5 separate regions of the Homo sapiens genome follow, and regions 1, 3, 4 and 5 are each reported to be linked to region 2. The links are microRNA targets in miRTarBase. Many come from high-throughput screens and were not tested one by one. Region 2 holds a microRNA gene; each other region holds the end of a gene's coding sequence.

The links. Region 2 holds the annotated microRNA hsa-miR-4680-3p (UCUGAAUUGUAAGAGUUGUUA, at 2,399-2,419, shown strand). A microRNA usually pairs through its seed, bases 2 to 8, with sites in the 3' UTR of a target mRNA and lowers its output. Matches are read on the target gene's strand: a 7mer-m8 pairs with bases 2 to 8, a 7mer-A1 pairs with bases 2 to 7 and ends in A, and an 8mer does both.
Region 1: miRTarBase lists RNF13 as a target of hsa-miR-4680-3p. Seed matches in the 3' UTR shown: 7mer-m8 at 3,434-3,440 and 7mer-m8 at 3,184-3,190.
Region 3: miRTarBase lists HSPA13 as a target of hsa-miR-4680-3p. Seed matches in the 3' UTR shown: 7mer-m8 at 2,875-2,881.
Region 4: miRTarBase lists CDCA4 as a target of hsa-miR-4680-3p. Seed matches in the 3' UTR shown: 7mer-m8 at 1,320-1,326.
Region 5: miRTarBase lists NEGR1 as a target of hsa-miR-4680-3p. Seed matches in the 3' UTR shown: 7mer-m8 at 4,006-4,012.

Annotation. Positions count from the first base shown.
Region 1 is chr3:149,959,952-149,964,760 of GRCh38, reverse strand. It overlaps RNF13 (ring finger protein 13), which reads right to left. Exons shown (of 10, transcript NM_183381.3): 9 at 4,625-4,705; 10 at 2,622-4,021. The coding sequence ends at 3,657. Among named protein-coding and RNA genes, the nearest start is that of PFN2, 8.5 kb to the left of the region's middle.
Region 2 is chr10:110,895,733-110,900,447 of GRCh38, forward strand. It overlaps MIR4680 (microRNA 4680), which reads left to right and starts at 2,358; the gene lies at 2,358-2,423. It overlaps PDCD4 (programmed cell death 4), which reads left to right. Exons shown (of 12, transcript NM_014456.5): 11 at 216-355; 12 at 2,296-4,274. The coding sequence ends at 2,356. It overlaps BBIP1 (BBSome interacting protein 1), which reads right to left. Exons shown (of 4, transcript NM_001195305.3): 4 at 2,998-4,715. The coding sequence ends at 4,628.
Region 3 is chr21:14,370,186-14,374,185 of GRCh38, forward strand. It overlaps HSPA13 (heat shock protein family A (Hsp70) member 13), which reads right to left. Exons shown (of 5, transcript NM_006948.5): 5 at 930-4,000. The coding sequence ends at 3,432. Among named protein-coding and RNA genes, the nearest start is that of HSPA13, 11 kb to the right of the region's middle.
Region 4 is chr14:105,007,327-105,012,181 of GRCh38, reverse strand. CDCA4 (cell division cycle associated 4) reads left to right here. Exons shown (of 2, transcript NM_017955.4): 2 at 247-2,609. The coding sequence starts at 253. The coding sequence ends at 978. Among named protein-coding and RNA genes, the nearest start is that of CDCA4, 11 kb to the left of the region's middle.
Region 5 is chr1:71,403,335-71,408,189 of GRCh38, reverse strand. It overlaps NEGR1 (neuronal growth regulator 1), which reads left to right. Exons shown (of 7, transcript NM_173808.3): 7 at 620-4,855. The coding sequence ends at 744. Among named protein-coding and RNA genes, the nearest start is that of ZRANB2-DT, 320 kb to the right of the region's middle.

The DNA.
Region 1 (4,809 bases), not on the chromosome of region 2:
TAATATTACAGATAAAATTAGTGCCTGGGAATTTCTTTTTAATGGACTCTGATCTGTTACACATAGCTTTTAGTCATTTCAGGCTCATCTTCAGGAGTATGTGAGAAGCAACTGACTTATCTGCTAGAAAATAAGTATTTTCCTCTTCTTGCTGGTTTCTAGATGTGAAATCTAATAGTAAAGGGAGTACCAAGAAGGGTTTCTGCACTATTGTGGATTTTTCTGTATTGAAATGTCATATGACTTTAGATTTGGAAGCTGTGTTGGCAGGCTGAAGTCAGCCAGCTGGGGCCCTCCCACATAAGAGCAGAAGACATTCCTTAGGCAGCATATAAGATAATTGGGATGCTTTTGCATTTTTTGGCTTTGTAGTGACATGTTGACCATGGCTGTGTAATAGGTTTAAATCCAGAGGCCATAAAATCCCTGATATATATTGAAGTTTGATAAATATGTAAATTTAGGGCTATTTACATAAATCATTATTACCAACAACTGTCAAGCGGACGCTTAGAGCCAGGGGTGCTCAAAAGTTAGTAGGTCTCAGTAAAACTGGGGAGCTGGTTATAAGGCAGACTATGGACTCTGGGGTTCCACTCTGGAGATGGAGAGTCCATAAGCCCAGGAATCCCTTTTCAGAAACAATCACTGAGTCAGTCTGATTCATTTTAAGTGGTGTATATGCTACCTTTTGAGAAAAAATGGGTTAGGGAATAGGAATTAACCTGTCTTAAAATATACTATGCATAATGAAAGTTTTTTTTTCTTTGACTAGTTGTCAGGCACTGGTTGTGAATATGGTTGTACATACACAGGGATGTACAAATATGGGAGATAAAGGATTTGGGGCTATTTTGGTAGTTGGACATAACCTAGAAATTGTAAAACTATAATAAAAACCTGGTATCAGTTTCTTGACCTGTTAAGGCCAAAAGACGGGGCAAATGAAAATTTGGTGGTTGAGTTGTGATGATTTGAGATTTTACAATAATACACATTCACACTTTACATGTAAAGAACTATTAGGGTAACCAATTATAGAAGGCAGTGACCAAAATTCTGAAACTCTTAATTAATCTGTAAGTAGGTGAAGGGGCAGTGTGTATGTGTGTGTTCAGAGAGGAGGTTGTGGGTAGAGAAGGTGGTAAAGGGTGAGTGTATCACTAAAATAGTATATAATGAAACTATTCATTGGCTTTCTACCCACAATTTCATTAGAAAAATACTTAGGGAAATACATACATGCGTACTTTGCTTTGTACTTAGTTCTAGGAATTTAGCATATGGAAATGAAGCTATACAAATTTGTATACCAGAATGTCCATCATGCTGCATTACTTATGACATCCAAACTTGGAAAATATCTACAAAGTTCAGCTTTTTAAGGGGTATGGTTTGAATAAATGATTTTAAGTCCATAGGACAAAATAGTCATTGAAGAATGACATAAGAATGTTTACCAATGAATGTTAATAATATAAGGATATAAACATGTCACATGACAGTGCACATACATACAGTATTAATATACATGTATTTTACATATGTATTTCTGAAGGCAATATATTAAGATAAATTTATCTCTGGAGTGAAAGTTTCCAGGTGACTATATTTTGATTTCTAGTGTTAATATTACTTTTGTAATCAAGAAAGTTTTAAATGTTTTTTAAATAGAAATTGGATTTTAATTGCACCTACTGTCCTGTTTGAAAAGCTATACCATGAAATTATAGAACATTTCAAGTGAACATTCACAGAACCTAGTAACAGCCCTAGCCAGTGCTGCTAAATAAGACACTTCGTAGATTTTTTTTTACAGTTAGTTAGTAATTATTTGGAATTTCAAAAAAAAATTTTTTTTTCCATAAAACTCCTAACATAAAGGGACCAGGTCCTTATTCTAAACTTTGGATTAAAGACTGAGGGAATATAACATCTAATACATACTTAACCATTACCGTGACTTTTTACTTTTTTCCCTTTTCCTATTTTAAAATATTGTTTTAGGTTTGTTTTTATTTAATAATAATTATTTTGAAGGCTATTACTTATTGCGCATTGATGTGCCAGATACTGAGCTCAATGTTTTCTCCTCACACCCTCTTAGGTTAAATGAAAATTATGCAAATGACCAAGCAGGTTTAAAAAGGTTAGGGCCATACAATTATGTCAAATTCCAAACTCTGCTTAACTACCGTGGTAACCTTTGATGTCCTGTTTCTCAGGCCTGTGGTTCTTTAATTTTTTATAAAAAAGGGGAAGAGGGATGAGGTATCAGATAGCTGATGTTGAATTCAACCGTTTATTTTCCAAAGTAGAAATACCTATTTATTTTTTTCCTGATTATGAACATTATTTTTTAAAAGGCAATTTGGAAAGTGAAATTTTCCCTCGATATACCATAATTTACAACAGGGTACCAAAATGTACACTGTTTATTTTTGGAATAATTTTGGCAGCAGTCTAAACTTTTTGGGATATTACCTAACTGCATGTGAATGGTCAGTTACCTTGTATAAAGTCCTAAGGTGATGTGATTTCTCTGACCTCAATCATTATCACTTTATAGGATATATATAAATAAGGCTAATATGGTAAGTAATACTACAGTAGAACAGACATTTACTGGATCTTAAAGTGGAAAACATGTTTATTAACATTCAAACTCCCCTCATACAAGGCCATATAAAAATCCTTAGCATTTTGATTATACATTAGTCTACACTTTCTACATAGTTACAATGATGTATAATTTAGCTTTTCATAATACAGTGTTTCAATACATCATTAGTTCTGTTAAACATAAGTCACTTACTTTCAAATCCAATACTTGAACAGTTTCCTCTGTACATAGTTTAGCAGGGCTAATTAGCATAAGATGCTATTTATTAAGAGGTATATGATCTGAGTATTAACAGTTGCTGAAGTTTGGTATTTTTATGCAGCATTTTCTTTTTGCTTTGATAACACTACAGAACCCTTAAGGACACTGAAAATTAGTAAGTAAAGTTCAGAAACATTAGCTGCTCAATCAAATCTCTACATAACACTATAGTAATTAAAACGTTAAAAAAAAGTGTTGAAATCTGCACTAGTATAGACCGCTCCTGTCAGGATAAGACTGCTTTGGAACAGAAAGGGAAAAAACAGCTTTGAGTTTCTTTGTGCTGATAGGAGGAAAGGCTGAATTACCTTGTTGCCTCTCCCTAATGATTGGCAGGTCAGGTAAATGCCAGAACATATTCCAACTCAACAACTCTAGGTAACTTTATGGAGGTGGAAGCTGGGTTAGTTCATGCTAGGTGGCTGTAGCACTGACCTCATGTATAAAACGCAAAACACTTAAATACTGTGATCTAGGTCTTAATTGCAAGCTATACTGAGGATTTTTTTTTTTTTATGTTTTGGCTATACTTTCATTCCAAAAGAAGAGCTGAATTGATGCTTGAGTTACAGCACCAGTCTATTATTAGTGAATGAAGTATATTCTTGGCAGATAAATACCAGATCAAAAGTCCTGTTTCAGTAATTTGATTAAACTGTAGAATACTAAAAAATAAGTTATTTCTACAGAAATCTTTGAAGGGAGCAAAAAATCAAATTACAGTATATACCTAATCATTTTAAAGGGAAATAAACCAATCATCTTCTGAAAGTCAAACAGTATTTGCTATGTTGTAATCCCGTTCACCATTAGGCTGCAACTGGACCACGACATCATGTTCATTAATTTCATTTTCTGCATCACTACTGTCAGTATCTTCATTGTCGTCTTCCTCATAGTCTGAAGATTCTGTCATGTTCTGATGTGAGCGGGATTCCGATAAAGCCCCAAATGACTGGGCACTGACAGAAGCTAAAGGTCTCAGTAAAGGGGTATGTTCTGTCACTTCATTTTCTTCTTGACTACTGTCTGTGTCAGAGTCTGAATCGCCTTGAGAAGGAACAACTTTTTGCTTGCACACTGGACAGGTTTTTTTGGTTTTAGTTAGCCAAGGGTCTACACACTTGCAGTGATAAGCTGTTGAAGCAAAATATACATCTTTAGTTAGTATGCTGCGGTTGATACTTTTATATTTAATCTCTTGCCATATTTATTCAGTGTTCTGTATGTATCATGTAGGGACGGGAAGAAAGTTTATTTTTTATTTTTATTTTTATTTTTTTTTGAGATGGAGTCTTGCTCTGTCACCCAGGCTGGAGTGCAGTGGCACAATCTCAGCTCACTGTAACCTCTGCCTCCTGGGTTCACGCCATTGTCCTGCCTCAGCCTCCCTAGTAGCTGGGGACTACAGGCGCCCGCCACCACACCCAGCTAATTTTTTGTATTTTTAGTAGAGACGGGGTTTCACTGTGTAAGCCAGGATGGTCTCGATCTCCTGACCTCATGATCTGCCTGCCTCGGCCTCCCAAAGTGCTGGGATTACAGGCGTGAGCCACCATGCCCGGCCTGAAAGTTTATAAATTTTTATAAATACACCTCCATCCTTGAATGAGACCACTAATTAGTACAGGGCCTGGCTTCTGGTGTGCTAATAACTATTTTCCATCTCTTCCCCTGGAATATGGAACCTAAATATAAATTACTATATGTAAATTCAAAGCAGTACGTAATTACTCATACCATGGGAACAGGGAAGGATTCTGAGTTTGTCTCCATCTTCATACTCATCCAAACAAATGGCACATACATCATACTCATCTCCTGAAAACAGAAAATATGTAGAGAACTATTTTTTCACCTTTCAAACTTTTCAAGTTAGTCCTCAGTTACTGCCTTTTGATGTATTTATCTTTGAATGATGCCTT
Region 2 (4,715 bases):
CAATGTCTGTTATTTCCTGACTCTAATAAAAGAGAACAGTTGTAAAACACTGTAACAAATCTACTTTCTGTGCTTCTCACGATTCAAATCTGACTTCAGTTTAACCATTTGAATATTTGGCCTTAAATACAAATTGATGACATAGTGATGGATTGTGTTTTATGACATTTATTTTATATGGGCTAACAATTCTGCATGTAATTTCATTGTTGTAGGGTTATGAGAGAATTTACAATGAAATTCCGGACATTAATCTGGATGTCCCACATTCATACTCTGTGCTGGAGCGGTTTGTAGAAGAATGTTTTCAGGCTGGAATAATTTCCAAACAACTCAGAGATCTTTGTCCTTCAAGGTACTTTATTTAAATACTACTTTCTCAATGTAAAATAGTGGATGAGATCTTTGGGAAGGTTAACTGCTAAGTTAGTTTATCGTTCCCTGAAGTCACTGAAGAACGTGACTCTTGTGAGTTCATGGAGAAAGAAGGGCGAAGCTTGTTTTAGCCCCCTTGTAAATCTGTACAGGACTGCCTCATGAAGTCCTAGTTTATTTGAAAGAAACTAATCTTGTGGAGCAGGTCCTTTGTTGTAAGTAGTTTCAGTGTTTAGAGTAGGTATTATCAGTGATAAGATGAGAAAATTGAGGCTTAGGGAGGTATAATGTACTTTTTCTAAGGTCACATGGCTAGTACATGGTAGAAGCCAAGTATGAATTCAGGACTTTTCTGGCTTCAAAGATCTAGGCTCTTACCTGTACTGGATGTGGCTTCCTTGACTTCTTTACAGGTTGGAGAATTAGGGCTAATTGGATGTTCTCACTAGAAAGTGTGTGTGTTGGGGGGTGTGTGGAGGATGTTCTCACTGGAAAGTGTATGTGTGTGGGTGATTTTCCTTGGAGCTATTAATATTTTTGCTACTAGTTGGTAAGTTTTTTTGTTGTTGTTAAAGCTAATAATGAAGCTTATAATGTAATAATATAAATGTTTAGTAATAGCTAAACTTTTTGCTTGTGTGGGTCAGTTTTATATAATCTTAAGTTCTTATAATTTTTTATCTGGAAAATTTCTTAAGCTTTGATATTTTTAAGTGCATTGTAAGAATTAAAAGTCAGAAAAATATTTCCTGGTAGGGGCCTTTGCTTTAGAATTTTAGAAGCCATTAAAAGAGAGGGAAAAGAAAGTGATGAAAGATAGTTTAATAGCTTTACTAGAAATGTTTGGAAATACAGACGTTAGCTTGGTGATGGCAGGATTTATGTATGGATGTGCCAAGTGATATACATCAGTAAAAACTCTGAACTTTGGCCTTCTTATTATTGACTGCTTTTTCATTCCCTACCTTGGTCTCATACAGTCTGAAGCCTTTATGTTCAAGATGATGTAGCTGTTTTCCACTTAGACTTAATATGAAAAGGGGCCAGTACCCTGGCATTGGCTTTTTGAAAGTTTTTCAGCCTCTGTTTGAAAGTCTGATTGTTTCTGTGTGGCTTTATTCTCAAGGGTCACATGAGGCAATAAACTTTCTGTGTATACATACCATACAGCTTTGACTTGGGTCCTTCATCTTTTAGCCTATTTGGGTAAGGTGCACATTTGTGTGTGGTTTTGCATGCTTGTGCCTATTGGCCTGGGGTCAGAGAGTAAGGGCTAATGTTGCCTAAGTTCTATTTCCCACTTACTGCTTTAGGCCACTGGCCAGCTGTTCCTTCTGGGCTATTGCCACTACATGTAGGTAAGAGTGTGGTTACATTATAGAGCAGGGCTTCTTGAGTTTGACAAAGCACGAATCCCAAAATGGGGCATAGGCTGTAATTCTGATTTTTTTCCACATTCAAGTTATGGCTTTTCTACAGTTGATAAAACATTTTTTTTTAAATTGCCAAACATGGATATTTTGATAGGTTGCACAGCTCCAGTTTGCATAATTCTGAATTATGTTAGTGTTTCCTATTTGGCTTACTGTTAAGCTTACAAATAATAATTAGAAATTAATTAGAAATAATTTTAAATTTCTAAATAAAATGTTTTAGTTTGAGTCAACTTTTTTTAATGTGACTCTGTTTGGATAGTGAACTTATTAAAACAAAAACTCAGATTTGATATTGATGTTTTATGCTAAGATATATAGTAGGGAGTCTTTTCCAAAGGAATTAGAGGCATGCTTTTTTTTTTTAATGGAAAACCCTTTAAAAGCTAACACGTAACGAAAAAATACCAAGTTTTTAATTTTTTTATATATTGACTATAGTCAGAATTTGTATCTGTTTTCATGTCTTTTTTTTTCTTCATTACAGGGGCAGAAAGCGTTTTGTAAGCGAAGGAGATGGAGGTCGTCTTAAACCAGAGAGCTACTGAATATAAGAACTCTTGCAGTCTTAGATGTTATAAAAATATATATCTGAATTGTAAGAGTTGTTAGCACAAGTTTTTTTTTTTTTTTTTTTTAAGCACTTGTTTTGGGTACAAGGCATTTCTGACATTTTATAAACCTACATTTAAGGGGAATTTTTAAAGGAAATGTTTTTTCTTTTTTTTTTGTTTTTCGAGGGGGCAAGGAGGGACAGAAAAGTAACCTCTTCTTAAGTGGAATATTCTAATAAGCTACCTTTTGTAAGTGCCATGTTTATTATCTAATCATTCCAAGTTTTGCATTGATGTCTGACTGCCACTCCTTTCTTTCAAGGACAGTGTTTTTTGTAGTAAAATCACTGGTTTATACAAAGCTTTATTTAGGGGGTAAAGTTAAGCTGCTAAAACCCCATGTTGGCTGCTGCTGTTGAGATACTGTGCTTTGGGAGTAAAAAAAGAAAGTTATTTCTTTGTCTTAAAGAATTTTTAAAAAATTAGTCATGAGACTTATTCATCTTTCCAGGGAACATACTGATTGGTCTTAAAAGACTAGACAGTTAAGTAAAAGGTGGCTGGAACATCTATTTTTCTACAAAACTGGAAAAATGAACCTGGTTCTAGAAGAATGTACACCAAAATAAAACATGTGAAGCAGTATTGATTCTTTATTGGGAGTACATTTTTTTAGGTCTCTTAAACTTTAATTTCACACAGTAAATTTTGAATCTCATAAGGAAGCATATTTGAACCTAGTCAATTTAATCTTAGTGTTCCCTTGAAAACTTTTTTTCCCTACAAAATTTTAAGTGAAAAATACAATAGTAAATTAAGATTACACTGGGGAAAAAAATGCAGGTATCACTTTACTCCATTGTTATCTGACCTAGAGCTTAATTAAGTTTTAGAAATATGTAATACCTTCCATCATTCCATCATCCTTAAATTCTGTTACCAAATAATGGCTAATGTTACAAAAAGTTATACTCCAGAGACCCAAAGCTTGACATTTACCTAATGTATGAGAAAATATTACCAATTAACAATAAAGAATGATCATATTTTTAACCTCTTTTACATAGCCTAATAACTCAGCAAGGCCTCAACGTCTGTGCTAATTTAAACTGCCAAATATTGACTGCAGCAAACAAGAATTATATTCAGAATTTATGAGGGTACTGTTAGGAGTATACTGCTTACAGGTTTAGATATAGTCTGTTAGAATTAAAACCAAGTTTAGTGTTCATATTTACCTCATGGGCTTTATCAAGCCCATATTACCTCAGCTTATATATAGTTACCATTTTTAGGTTTTTAATTGTTTGACACTTGGATGATAAATGCAGTCATTTTATTCTCAAGTGCTTAAAATTAATGTAATTAAAAGCTTAGCTGACTACAGAATAGGTGAGGGTTTCTTAAAAATGAGATTTAAGGGCTGGGCACGGTGGCTCATGCCTGTAATCCCAGCACTTTGGGAGGCCGAGGTGGGCGGATCACTTGAGGTTGGGAGTTCATGACCAGCTTGACCAACATGAAGAAACCCTGTCTCTATTAAAAATACAAAAGTAGCCAGGCATGGTGGCGCATGCGTGTAATCCCAGCTACTTGGGAGGCTGAGGCAGGAGAATTGCTTGAACCTGGGAGGCAGAGGTTGCAGTGAGTCGAGATGGTGCCATTGCTCTCGTTTGGGCAACAAGAGTGAAACTCTTGTCTCAAAAAAAAAAAAAAATGAGGTTTAAGACAGTTTTGTCATTACTGGTGGGATCTGGTCACACAAGATAGCATTAAACGTGACATGGCACATAAAATTGGTTAAAAAATTTTGTTTTTTAATTACGTAATGTAAAAGCCCAACAAACACTTTATGCAAGATTGGAATGTATCTTCAAATTCAGATTTAATAAACATGTAAAGATCCTCTGTATATAAAAGTTGTATTTAATCCCTTGTGCCCAAGAATGCTATAAAAGATCCCAAGAATGTTATCTATAAAAGATAGCAATAGGAATGGTGAACAAATAATTTAATTTGCAATTCTAAAAACATGACTTAAACCCCATAAAACTTGGTTCATAGTTTAACTGTTTATGTTCAATACAAACCAGAGTGTTTACATTCACAATACAAATTTCATCAATCTTGGATATTTTTGTATTTCTATGAATACTATCAATTTTATTGATAACACATACTACTTTCAGCACACAGAAGCATATTTTCTAGTTATTGTTAAATAGTAGATAAGGCAGGTTGTTCCCTAAAGTGCTCAGTTATCATTCAGTGGGTTATTTGCCGTTGATCCTTTTCTGCCATTTCTTGTTGGCGAATTGTATTCTGTGCTGCTTGATGCATTTTCTCTAGTTTT
Region 3 (4,000 bases), not on the chromosome of region 2:
GGGTTCATTTCAAGAAGGCTGTCTCACATAGCTGGAAATTCGTGCCTCCTGTCAGTGGGGGGTACCTTTCTGCCTCCATGTGGCTCTCATCTTCTAGGGTGTCTTTCTACACCTGTATTCACCAGAACAGCCTTCTTCACATGGTCTTCTTTATGTGGCAGCTGGGATCCAAAAGAGAAAGCCAGCAAGAGGGTGCATCCAAGAAGGAAGCTGATCTTTTTTAAACCTAATTTCAGAAATGACATCCCAGCACTTCTGCCGTATTATTCATTAGCATTGAGTCATTATCTCTTGCCCAAATTCAAGAGAATAGGATTACCCAAGGATGTTAATTCCACAAGGTGGGATCATTGGGTCCCACATCAGAGGCTGCCTACCTCAGTGAGGCACTATCTGTTAATTAAGATAAATATGAAGTATTGCTGTATTTCCTCATATATTTGAGTCTCTCCAAGGTCAAGTATACCGTCATTACCTAAAGGCTCATCTTAGATTACATTAATCAAATGAGTTTCTTAAAGAAGCAAAACATAATATATTGTTTTTTTGTCCAAAGACTAATATAAACTTTGTTAGAGAAATATTTATTAACCATCAACCAAAGGAATCCTGTTATGCAGGATTATTTACTAACTAGCTAGATTAGGTTAGCTTAGTTTCTGGCTCCATCGTGGTCAGAAGCCATGAATTAGTATTTAGAATTCTGAAGATACTGTTCATATGCTACAAGTTGTCTTTTCTAAATTAGAGAAGCCAGTGGAAAGCATATAAGCAATAGAAAGGATATAGAGAAATGTACATTTCGGGAACAACTAGGCAACAGCTACTGAGATTGAGTGCCTTGGCATCAAATCAGTTCCATCCTCACTTTCTTATTTATATGCCTGAAAAGTATACTCCAGACTAGTCCTGAATGAAAAAGTACATAGTTTAAAAAACAAACTGCAAAATGGTATTTATTTACATTAAAACATGAATTGCCTGTATACACACAAATATAAGAGGAACAATCTGTTATGCACAATAACTGTAATATTTAGTACATGTTATACACAGCAGTATCTGTTAAGTCAGTGGTTTGAGTGAAAACACAGTACCAAAACATTCCTGATACAAAATAAGTTACTCATTCACATATTCTAATCATACAAGACACTTAATATTTTAAAAGTTACATACTTCAAATAACACTGGCTAAATGTACAACTAAAGTTTATTAATTTTTTTTATGAAAAGACTTCAGATTGTTATTCATAAATGATCCCTTTCAGGATGCATTATCTTTTAAATAAATAAACTAAATTGACTTCAAGACTATTTATAAATAGCCCACTAAAATATGATTGAAGACATTCCTTCATTTTATTAAAGGTGTAGCTATATACTAGAGAATATGCTCAACTACTGCCTCCAAATTCCAACACTGTCATTCTAATTTGCAAATAGGAATTATTTAAATTCCAACTTCAGGACATGAGATGAGCTGCCTGCCCTATTTTGTCAATTGTTTCCAAAAGCATTAACGGATTAAGAGACTGTCTTGAACATCTCAAACATTTGAGAAATTCAAGGTTTTCTTTATGTTTTAAGCTGATCCTATATATGGAGATTTTGAGATAAATTGGAACACTTTTAGAAGACCTTCACAAAGAATTTTTCAATTCTAAAATCTATTACAGATTTATATAAAGTCCAAGAGAACATGTGAAATATTTTCATAATGCAGTGAAGGATTCATCTTTGGCATTTCTCCATTCATTCTAAAATAAGATACTTCAACAAACATTTTATACTTTTCTATCTACCTACTATACATATTTTCTATACACAAAAGTATTTGATTGAAATTTGTGTTTTAACAGCAATTTCATTGCTAAGAATTTTTTTTTAGATATGAAAAATATTAGTAACATTCAGCTTTTTACTATGAGAAGCTGAAGTTTTGATGTTGTTGAAATGAATTTGCTCAGTTTCCTTTTTTGGTGACCAGCATTTCAACATCCTATCGAATTCAGCAATGGATAAAGCAGAGATACTTTACAATAAAAAACAAAAAAAGGTGATCAGGATATAATTTTTGAATAATATGAAGCATTCCTCTATTAAGGAAAATATGTATATATATATATAATCTGTATCCATATATCTTCAAATACAATGGGTATGACAGAAATCAAACTGTTATATTTTCTTTCTTGGTCCCTGTGGTTTTTCTTAAAGGAAACAAACAACAAAAACAAACAACTCTGCTCCAAATGCCGATTTGTAGAAACCTTGCCACAATGGCTTCCACATTAGATTTCCACGTTACTTCCAGTATTCACAAATTTTTTGCTTTCATTACAAACTAACCTAATGTTTGAAAAGAGTCCAAGTGTGATTATTTAAAAATAATAATAGAAAACAATAACACAGCTTTTATAATTGAGCACATTTTCCTCATTCAAAACTAAATATGAGGAAAAATCTCCGTAAAACGGAACCAAAACCATTTAGTAGCTCAATTCCATGCTATATTCCCCAGGGCTTACTGAAAATATAAACAAAGAAACAAATACAGTAGGTAATTGATGCTATTTGCCAATGTTTGCAAAGGTCTCGGATAACAAAAATAAGATAGCAATCATGGCTTTATTATGACATTAACACATTCTTCAAATGCAATTACCAATTTTATTCTCTAACCAAACAGAATAATGGAAATCCAAGCAGAGAATGATGTACAGGACATAAAGGAACTAGAATATAATTGGGTATTTCTATTATATGGTGCTGAAACATTTGAATACCTTTAGAAATAAAATAAATTCATCTATTAAACACATAAAACTCCTGGAGAATGCAGATTACAAGAATATGACACTTAACAGGATACTGAATTTGTGAATGTAAATTTGTTATATAATATGGCAGTTACTGAATATTACGTATGCAGCTTATGCTAATAATACTGCTATCTTCCAACCACTGTAAATACCTGACATCAACACGGTCCTTCAAGTATAGTTCAAATTATTAGTTACATGTGATAATACAAGTAATTACCAGCTCCTGCTAATACAATTTAGTAAGAACTGGGAATCTCATAACTGGCACTACTTAATGTTTATAGAATATAATGTTAAGTGCATATGGTTATCAACCTCCAGAATCCAGAAAATATAGTTATCCATACTCTTTTAAGAGAGTTGTACCTCAATTTTATCATTTTAGAGTATTTGTTAGAATAGGATCTCTCCAAAATCAAACAGGATCAATCTGGTCACGTCTAATCCTAAGACAAAACACTATGTAAAATTTTCCTGTATCTAAATGTTGCCCTCTAGGTAAATCTGTGATATTTTAGAGACTTTCTTTTGTGGAAAAGGTAATCTGATAAATGGGAAGAGATCATCAGACAAGTTCACAAATAACCATTATTTCTGCAGAATTCAGTTGAAGTTGGTTTTTTGTAAATGCTTATTGGGAATTTCTAAAGCACTGACTTGGAGAGGCCAAGAGCCTCCATCAATCCCTGCTTGGATAGCCACTCCCGTTACTACTGCTAGGTCAGGGTCTACAGATGTGTTGGGATCTTTTCCAAAGAACTCTTGAATGACTTGACGGATCCGAGGAATACGAGTGGAGCCCCCAACTAAAACCACCTCATCAATCTCAGTCTTTTCCAGGTGGCCTTCTTTCAATACTTGCTGAATGGGTACCAGTATTTTCTGAAAGAGGTCTTCATTAAGGGTATCAAAGAGTTTCCGTGATATTTCTGTTTCAAATAAAACCTGACTTTCTCCACTTTTCTTATCAGAAAGGCCACGTCCAAACCCACTGTTCACGCGATGGTCATCTGCTGAGGAAAGTTTGTCTTTTGGCAGTTCAGTGTCACTACTGTGAGGTTCCTTCCTGTCCTGCTCCTCCACCGTTAGTAATACTGACAACTGAGCAGATTGATGAAGAGTCAGATTTAATTTGACCATTTCCACAGCTTGTCTCAATCTGTGGATTTCCT
Region 4 (4,855 bases), not on the chromosome of region 2:
AGGTTTGTCGTTTCTAACAACGTGACTGTGCCTGGCTTAGGCAGGATGGCAGCTGATCTGGGGGTGGGGGTCTCCCACTGGGCTCCACGTCTCAGCTCTGTTAGGGAGTTACAGCTCTGTCAAGTCCCTGCCAGTTACGGAGTCGCTGCTCCTTGCGTACAGTGAGGGCAGTCAGACGAAATCCAAGGGGCGCTGTCCGCAGAGAGTCTGCCGTGTGCTAAGTGGTGTCTTCCTTGGTTTCTGCAGGACACAATGTTTGCACGAGGACTGAAGAGGAAATGTGTTGGCCACGAGGAAGACGTGGAGGGAGCCCTGGCCGGCTTGAAGACAGTGTCCTCATACAGCCTGCAGCGGCAGTCGCTCCTGGACATGTCTCTGGTGAAGTTGCAGCTTTGCCACATGCTTGTGGAGCCCAACCTGTGCCGCTCAGTCCTCATTGCCAACACGGTCCGGCAGATCCAAGAGGAGATGACGCAGGATGGGACGTGGCGCACAGTGGCACCCCAGGCTGCAGAGCGGGCGCCGCTCGACCGCTTGGTCTCCACGGAGATCCTGTGCCGTGCAGCGTGGGGGCAAGAGGGGGCACATCCTGCTCCTGGCTTGGGGGACGGCCACACACAGGGTCCAGTTTCTGACCTTTGCCCAGTCACCTCAGCACAGGCACCAAGGCACCTGCAGAGCAGCGCCTGGGAGATGGATGGCCCTCGAGAAAACAGAGGAAGCTTTCACAAGTCACTTGATCAGATATTTGAAACGCTGGAGACTAAAAACCCCAGCTGCATGGAAGAGCTGTTCTCAGACGTGGACAGCCCCTACTACGACCTGGACACAGTACTGACAGGCATGATGGGGGGTGCCAGGCCGGGCCCCTGCGAAGGGCTCGAGGGCTTGGCTCCGGCCACCCCAGGCCCTAGCTCCAGCTGCAAGTCCGACCTGGGCGAGCTGGACCACGTGGTGGAGATCCTGGTGGAGACCTGAGCAGGAGCCCTGAGTGCTCACAGCCGCCTCTGACGCATTGACACGTGAGCACTGGCTCCCACGGAGGGTGCGCCTGCCGCCAGCGGCCCAGCCTTGCTGCCCTGTCTGCTGATTCTGAGAAATCCCAGAACAGCCCATTACCAGTGGGGCTGCAGCCCTAGGCCCGTCCCACTCACCTCCCCCCTGTGGAGCGCCAGGCAGAGGCTGTTCTGGAAGGCTTCTTGTCTTCTGACGTCCCCACAGCCCTGGGCCCCTCGTGTCTCTTTGTGTCCCCCACTGTAGAGGACGGTGAGCCGCAGCTGCATCAACCTCCTTTTACCTTTAGATAGGTGAATTTTTACAATTCAGTTTTACATGTTTTGGGCAGTATTTTGTCTTAAGATATATTTTTTAAACTTTTTATACCTTATCTCTTTAGATTTTTTCAGCTATTTTCTTAAAAGTATATTTTTTCTATAAACATCCTTTGCTGCTACATTAGAACTTTTATAGCCTAAACAATTGCAGTTGGTGTGTTTCATTTTTTTAAGGTTTAAATAAGGGTTTTTTGTTTTGTTTTGTTTTTTGCAGTGAGCATCACTACAGTCTCAGTCAACAGTGTGAATGTATCATGTTTTACTTTAAATGTGTGTGTGATACTTCTTCATTATGTCCTGCGCTGCAGTGAGACCTGGGTGAAAATCAGGAGCCGCACACAGCCACATCTTCCTAGACCTAAGAGTAAATTATGGAGGATTTTATTTATGTCTATTTATATGTAAATGTCATTGAAGACAAAGGTCAAATATTTGTCTGTTTGTAGATCACAGGCACCAGTTGGTCTTCAGGGACCTCATAGCCCCTCGGTGGTGCCTTCTCAAGGCAGTGTTCCTGGAGGCTCCCATCAGGGTCAGCCCATGCACCTGCCCTGGGTGAGGAAGTAGCATTGCTGCTGGATGAGAAACGCCTGCGCTGCTCTGTTAGACTGGTGCTGAAACAAAAGGTTAAGGCTAGGTTGAAGTCTAGAATGAAAGAAATCTGAATCCATGTCATTCATAACCCCTTGATCTGTAGTGTCATGGGTGCTGCCGCAGGCAGGGAGTGAGCTGGGGGTGCCTGCAGCCTTCCACTCCTGCCCCGCCTCACCCCACATGCTCCCTGTTTCTCATGCTTTCTCTAACTTCCTCACCCCTTAACCAAAAAGGTGTGTTTTCTTTTGTGCATATAGCCATTCTTAAATATCAGTGATGTAAACCTCACTTTATTAAAAAATTATCCAGCAAACAAAATGGGAATGTGGTGTTAGTTACGACCACGGCCTGACCCTCCAGCAACCTTTCTGCAGGATCAGTTCTGCTGTATTATCTGGTGGTGCTTTCTAAGGTGGGGAAAGGAATTGCACTTGGCTGCATTAAATGGACGCTGGGTTACTTTTATTTCCCCCCCCCACAGGGTTGCAGAGCAAATTCTTTTTACATTGTTCAGCGCCCGGCTGGAGTTGGGGGTGTCCACGACCTCTGACAGCCCCCGATGTCGAAAGTTAATCCTCATGGACCCTAGTTTAAAGGGTATGTGTTTTATAGGAATAAATCTAAAGCACTATTTTGTTTCTGTATAGCATTTTTATCTTTTAGAAACATCATTTGTTCAGCATTAGTAGTAGTTGTAGTGCCTGTTTTGGTAGCCTTCAAAATTATAAACTGCTCAGAGAATGTGACTTTTGAGCGCTTTAGGGGTGCTTGGTCGGAAAACAGACTGGGTCTGTGGAAGGACCACAGACAGGAGAGAACAGCTGCTGTGACTTAGAAGTGTAGCCGGAGTCTCATTCCCTGGACTCGCCGTGTTCACCTGTGACACCGTACACCAAAGCCTGCTTGTTTCCACCGTGGTGCGCAGTGGCTGAGTAATCAGCTGTTTTCCAAGCATCATTTCTCTGCAAGTTTAGTCCGTGTGTGTGGCTTTGTTTTTTTTTGTTTTTTTTTTTTCTTTTTTTTTGATGGAGTCTCGCTCTGTCTCCCAGGCTGGAGTGCAGTGGCGCGATCTTGGCTCACCGCAACCTCTGCCTCCCAGGTTCAAGCGATTCTCCTGCTTCAGCCTCCCAAGTAGCTGGGATTACAGGCACCCACCACTACGCCCAGCTAATTTGGTGTATTTTTAGTAGAGACAGGGTTTCACCGTGTTGCCAGGATGGTCTCGAACTCCTGACCTCATGATTCACCTGCCTCAGCCTCCCAAAATGCTAGGATTACAGGCGTGAGCCACCGCGCCTGGCATTCTTGGTTTTTTGACAGGATTTAACTTTTGTTGCCCAGGCTGGAGTGCAATGGCGTGACCTTGGCTCACTGCAACCTCTGCCTCCCAGGTTCAAGCGATTCTCCTGCCTCAGCCTCCCAAGTAGCTGGGATTACAGGCATGTGCCACCACGCCCGGCTAATTTTTATATTTTTAGTAGAGATGGGGTTTCACCATGTTGATGAGACTGGTCTCGAACTCCCAACCTCAGGTGATCCACCTGCCTCGGCCTCCCAAAGTGCTGGGAATATAGGCGTGAGCCACCGCACCTGGCCATGTATGTGGTATTTTTAAGTCTGTAGGTACAAATTGACTTTAATTGGGAAGAAATTTTCCAAGTGTTTAATAATTTTGTTTACAAAATGTTTATTCAGAAACAGAAATACAAATTCCAGTCATCTAAACTTGGCACTGTTCTCTGCGGTTTGCTTCTGGCCAAACTGAGGGGAGCGGGCATGTTAGTTGACAGTTTCCCAGGGGCGTTTCCTGACGTGTGGTGGGTACCCCTCACGTGCAGCATGCCTTGCACACAGCTTCGGAGCCCCTTCTACCTCAGAAGTTCGGTTTCTAGGGTTATAAAGTAATGCACGTTTATTTGAAGACATGGAACCAGTATGAAGATAGCAGACTCCTCCCAGGGAACCGATCTTCCTTTCAGGGGTGACAGCGCACCTTGGAGAACGCTACCTGCTCCGCCCACAGATGCCTGCGCAGGATTTCCTCGGGGGCGGGGCGGGGTGGGAGGGGGTGGTCTCCACAGGGCTGAGCCCAGCCATCTGGGCCTGGATCCCTGCTGGGCCACATCTGGGCCAGGCGCCTTCTCCCAGGTTCACTCCTTAGTGAAGTGGGCCCGGCAGTGATGGAAGGAGGACGCAGCAGCAAACTGCGGAACAAGTGTGGACATTGTGCTCACCCTGTGGAGTCCAGGTAGCCGGGTGAGCAGGCTGGCGGAGCCACCGGAAAGGGCCGGGCTGGGGTGGGTGGGTGTCTGAGGTGTGGACACTTGATGTGTTGCCTTGGTGTCTACCTAAAGACAGAGTGGTGGGATCACGTCCCTCATCATAAACTCTCACAGTTGGTTTCTGGGTTGCTAGAAGTTTCTATCTGCAACCAGCGAGCCGTGTCCTTAAACTGGGATTTTGCTGTGACCTGAACCAAGCTTTCCATGTGGCAGTGCTGTGTGTGCTGGGTTGCTGCATTTACTCACAGGAAGGCCGCTGTTCCTTCTCATGCCCTGTGTGGAGGTGGCTGTGTCCTCAGTGCCTGCTCAGGGTTTGTAGTGGAGCCAAGCAGGGAGGGGAGTTGTGATGTGTGGATGCCTGAGGGTTCGAGGGTAACCTCCCTTTCTCAGTGATGAGCCTTTGCAGTATTCTCAGGAGTGGCGATCGCCCGTCTGGGAAGATGTGACTGCCAAGTGCAGCCCTCAGTTGAGGTGACACATGTTGCTTGGTCGCTCCAGCAGACTTGCTGCAGCTGGACAGTTTAAGCTCTTGGGGCTGCTTGCTGCCCCTTGCAGGCGTACACTTCATCGGCCCATCCCTCACTCTGCTGTGCCCCTGGGAGATAAGCCCCGCCTTCTCAGATCCGTCCCCCTTGCCTTCCACGC
Region 5 (4,855 bases), not on the chromosome of region 2:
TTCTTCTACCCACATGATAGTCTCCTTTAGTAAAACTGTATTTGAAATCTCCCTTACCCAGGCAATTTAAAAGCACAATTTGTCTGTGTTACTGGGTATGCACATGCAACTCTAATATTCTGTATTATAATTGTTTGAAGATCTTTTCTCACCAAAAAAAGGCCTTGGAAGGGACAATATTCTTGTTTTCCTAGCATTTAGTACAGTATTTAGCTAATAAAACACAGCTATATATACACATGAATGACTATTTGTCCATTAATACAAATATTTACAGTACATATAAGAGGAATAATAATGTTAGTAGCTGTTGAGTACTTAGCATGTGTTTAGTTGATGTAATATGCTGTATGTGCTTCATCTCCAATTCTCACCACAGCCCTGTGAGGTGGATTCTATTATTTCTATTATTTTCATTTTGCCCTTGAGAAAACTGAAGCTCTGAGAAGTTAGCCACATAGCCCACACGTTGTCATATAGCAGAATCAGATATGAACTTCAGTCTGTCTGACTCCAATGTCAGTGCTTTCCCCGATGCACCTGGCTACCTTTTGATTATTGTCAAGATCCTGGAAGACACAAATTAGATTTTGATTTAATCTTTTCCATTTCTTTCCAGCTCCAAGTACAGCCCAGTATGGAATTACCGGGAGCGCTGATGTTCTTTTCTCCTGCTGGTACCTTGTGTTGACACTGTCCTCTTTCACCAGCATATTCTACCTGAAGAATGCCATTCTACAATAAATTCAAAGACCCATAAAAGGCTTTTAAGGATTCTCTGAAAGTGCTGATGGCTGGATCCAATCTGGTACAGTTTGTTAAAAGCAGCGTGGGATATAATCAGCAGTGCTTACATGGGGATGATCGCCTTCTGTAGAATTGCTCATTATGTAAATACTTTAATTCTACTCTTTTTTGATTAGCTACATTACCTTGTGAAGCAGTACACATTGTCCTTTTTTTAAGACGTGAAAGCTCTGAAATTACTTTTAGAGGATATTAATTGTGATTTCATGTTTGTAATCTACAACTTTTCAAAAGCATTCAGTCATGGTCTGCTAGGTTGCAGGCTGTAGTTTACAAAAACGAATATTGCAGTGAATATGTGATTCTTTAAGGCTGCAATACAAGCATTCAGTTCCCTGTTTCAATAAGAGTCAATCCACATTTACAAAGATGCATTTTTTTCTTTTTTGATAAAAAAGCAAATAATATTGCCTTCAGATTATTTCTTCAAAATATAACACATATCTAGATTTTTCTGCTCGCATGATATTCAGGTTTCAGGAATGAGCCTTGTAATATAACTGGCTGTGCAGCTCTGCTTCTCTTTCCTGTAAGTTCAGCATGGGTGTGCCTTCATACAATAATATTTTTCTCTTTGTCTCCAACTAATATAAAATGTTTTGCTAAATCTTACAATTTGAAAGTAAAAATAAACCAGAGTGATCAAGTTAAACCATACACTATCTCTAAGTAACGAAGGAGCTATTGGACTGTAAAAATCTCTTCCTGCACTGACAATGGGGTTTGAGAATTTTGCCCCACACTAACTCAGTTCTTGTGATGAGAGACAATTTAATAACAGTATAGTAAATATACCATATGATTTCTTTAGTTGTAGCTAAATGTTAGATCCACCGTGGGAAATCATTCCCTTTAAAATGACAGCACAGTCCACTCAAAGGATTGCCTAGCAATACAGCATCTTTTCCTTTCACTAGTCCAAGCCAAAAATTTTAAGATGATTTGTCAGAAAGGGCACAAAGTCCTATCACCTAATATTACAAGAGTTGGTAAGCGCTCATCATTAATTTTATTTTGTGGCAGCTAAGTTAGTATGACAGAGGCAGTGCTCCTGTGGACAGGAGCATTTTGCATATTTTCCATCTGAAAGTATCACTCAGTTGATAGTCTGGAATGCATGTTATATATTTTAAAACTTCCAAAATATATTATAACAAACATTCTATATCGGTATGTAGCAGACCAATCTCTAAAATAGCTAATTCTTCAATAAAATCTTTCTATATAGCCATTTCAGTGCAAACAAGTAAAATCAAAAAAGACCATCCTTTATTTTTCCTTACATGATATATGTAAGATGCGATCAAATAAAGACAAAACACCAGTGATGAGAATATCTTAAGATAAGTAATTATCAAATTATTGTGAATGTTAAATTATTTCTACTATAAAGAAGCAAAACTACATTTTTGAAGGAAAATGCTGTTACTCTAACATTAATTTACAGGAATAGTTTGATGGTTTCACTCTTTACTAAAGAAAGGCCATCACCTTGAAAGCCATTTTACAGGTTTGATGAAGTTACCAATTTCAGTACACCTAAATTTCTACAAATAGTCCCCTTTTACAAGTTGTAACAACAAAGACCCTATAATAAAATTAGATACAAGAAATTTTGCAGTGGTTATACATATTTGAGATATCTAGTATGTTGCCCTAGCAGGGATGGCTTAAAAACTGTGATTTTTTTTCTTCAAGTAAAACTTAGTCCCAAAGTACATCATAAATCAATTTTAATTAGAAAAATGAATCTTAAATGAGGGGACATAAGTATACTCTTTCCACAAAATGGCAATAATAAGGCATAAAGCTAGTAAATCTACTAACTGTAATAAATGTATGACATTATTTTGATTGATACATTAAAAAAGAGTTTTTAGAACAAATATGGCATTTAACTTTATTATTTATTTGCTTTTAAGAAATATTCTTTGTGGAATTGTTGAATAAACTATAAAATATTATTTTGTATTGCAGCTTTAAAGTGGCACACTCCATAATAATCTACTTACTAGAAATAGTGGTGCTACCACAAAAAATGTTAACCATCAGTACCATTGTTTGGGAGAAAGAAACAGATCAAGAATGCATATTATTCAGTGACCGCTTTCCTAGAGTTAAAATACCTCCTCTTTGTAAGGTTTGTAGGTAAATTGAGGTATAAACTATGGATGAACCAAATAATTAGTTCAAAGTGTTGTCATGATTCCAAATTTGTGGAGTCTGGTGTTTTTACCATAGAATGTGACAGAAGTACAGTCATAGCTCAGTAGCTATATGTATTTGCCTTTATGTTAGAAGAGACTTTCTTGAGTGACATTTTTAAATAGAGGAGGTATTCACTATGTTTTTCTGTATCACAGCAGCATTCCTAGTCCTTAGGCCCTCGGACAGAGTGAAATCATGAGTATTTATGAGTTCAATATTGTCAAATAAGGCTACAGTATTTGCTTTTTTGTGTGAATGTATTGCATATAATGTTCAAGTAGATGATTTTACATTTATGGACATATAAAATGTCTGATTACCCCATTTTATCAGTCCTGACTGTACAAGATTGTTGCAATTTCAGAATAGCAGTTTTATAAATTGATTTATCTTTTAATCTATAACAATTTGTGTTAGCTGTTCATTTCAGGATTATATTTTCTACAAGTTCCACTTGTGGGACTCCTTTTGTTGCCCCTATTTTTTTTTAAAGAAGGAAGAAAGAAAAATAAGTAGCAGTTTAAAAATGAGAATGGAGAGAAAAGAAAAAGAATGAAAAGGAAAGGCAGTAAAGAGGGAAAAAAAGGAAGGATGGAAGGAATGAAGGAAGGAAGGGAGGAAGGGGAGAAGGTAGGAAGAAAGAAAGGATGAGAGGGAAGGAAGAATCAGAGTATTAGGGTAGTTAACTTACACATTTGCATTCTTAGTTTAACTGCAAGTGGTGTAACTACGTTTTTCAATGATCGCATTTGAAACATAAGTCCTATTATACCATTAAGTTCCTATTATGCAGCAATTATATAATAAAAAGTACTGCCCAAGTTATAGTAATGTGGGTGTTTTTGAGACACTAAAAGATTTGAGAGGGAGAATTTCAAACTTAAAGCCACTTTTGGGGGGTTTATAACTTAACTGAAAAATTAATGCTTCATCATAACATTTAAGCTATATCTAGAAAGTAGACTGGAGAACTGAGAAAATTACCCAGGTAATTCAGGGAAAAAAAAAAATATATATATATATAAATACCCCTACATTTGAAGTCAGAAAACTCTGAAAAACTGAATTATCAAAGTCAATCATCTATAATGATCAAATTTACTGAACAATTGTTAATTTATCCATTGTGCTTAGCTTTGTGACACAGCCAAAAGTTACCTATTTAATCTTTTCAATAAAAATTGTTTTTTGAAATCCAGAAATGATTTAAAAAGAGGTCAGGTTTTTAACTATTTATTGAAGTATGTGGATGTACAGTATTTCAATAGATATGAATATGAATAAATGGTATGCCTTAAGATTCTTTGAATATGTATTTACTTTAAAGACTGGAAAAAGCTCTTCCTGTCTTTTAGTAAAACATCCATATTTCATAACCTGATGTAAAATATGTTGTACTGTTTCCAATAGGTGAATATAAACTCAGTTTATCAATTAAAATATGTATTTGACTCATTTTAAAACTCTATTAGCTTAAGAGAAAGAAGGAAGAAATAATAATTTGAAGATATTTCTGCTATTCTCTTTATTTCCTGTATTACACTCATCTTTCTGCTTACTCTAAAGCAGTACAGGGTAAAAATTCTAGATGCTACAGTTTCAAATGACTCCACACTATATTCTTTCTTGCTGTTGCTGATTCCTAAAAGGTTTGATGAGCTGAACTACATCTAAACTAAAAATAAATTTTCTGGAAACATTTTATTATTAATTATTTAGAACCTTTACCTGGTAAAATACAGCAGAGTTAGCAACAGAGACTAAATATCCTGTTGATAAAATCCTGATGATCTTACAGGCTAAACAACTGAAAACTCAAACGCTTGTAAGAGCCAGGCAG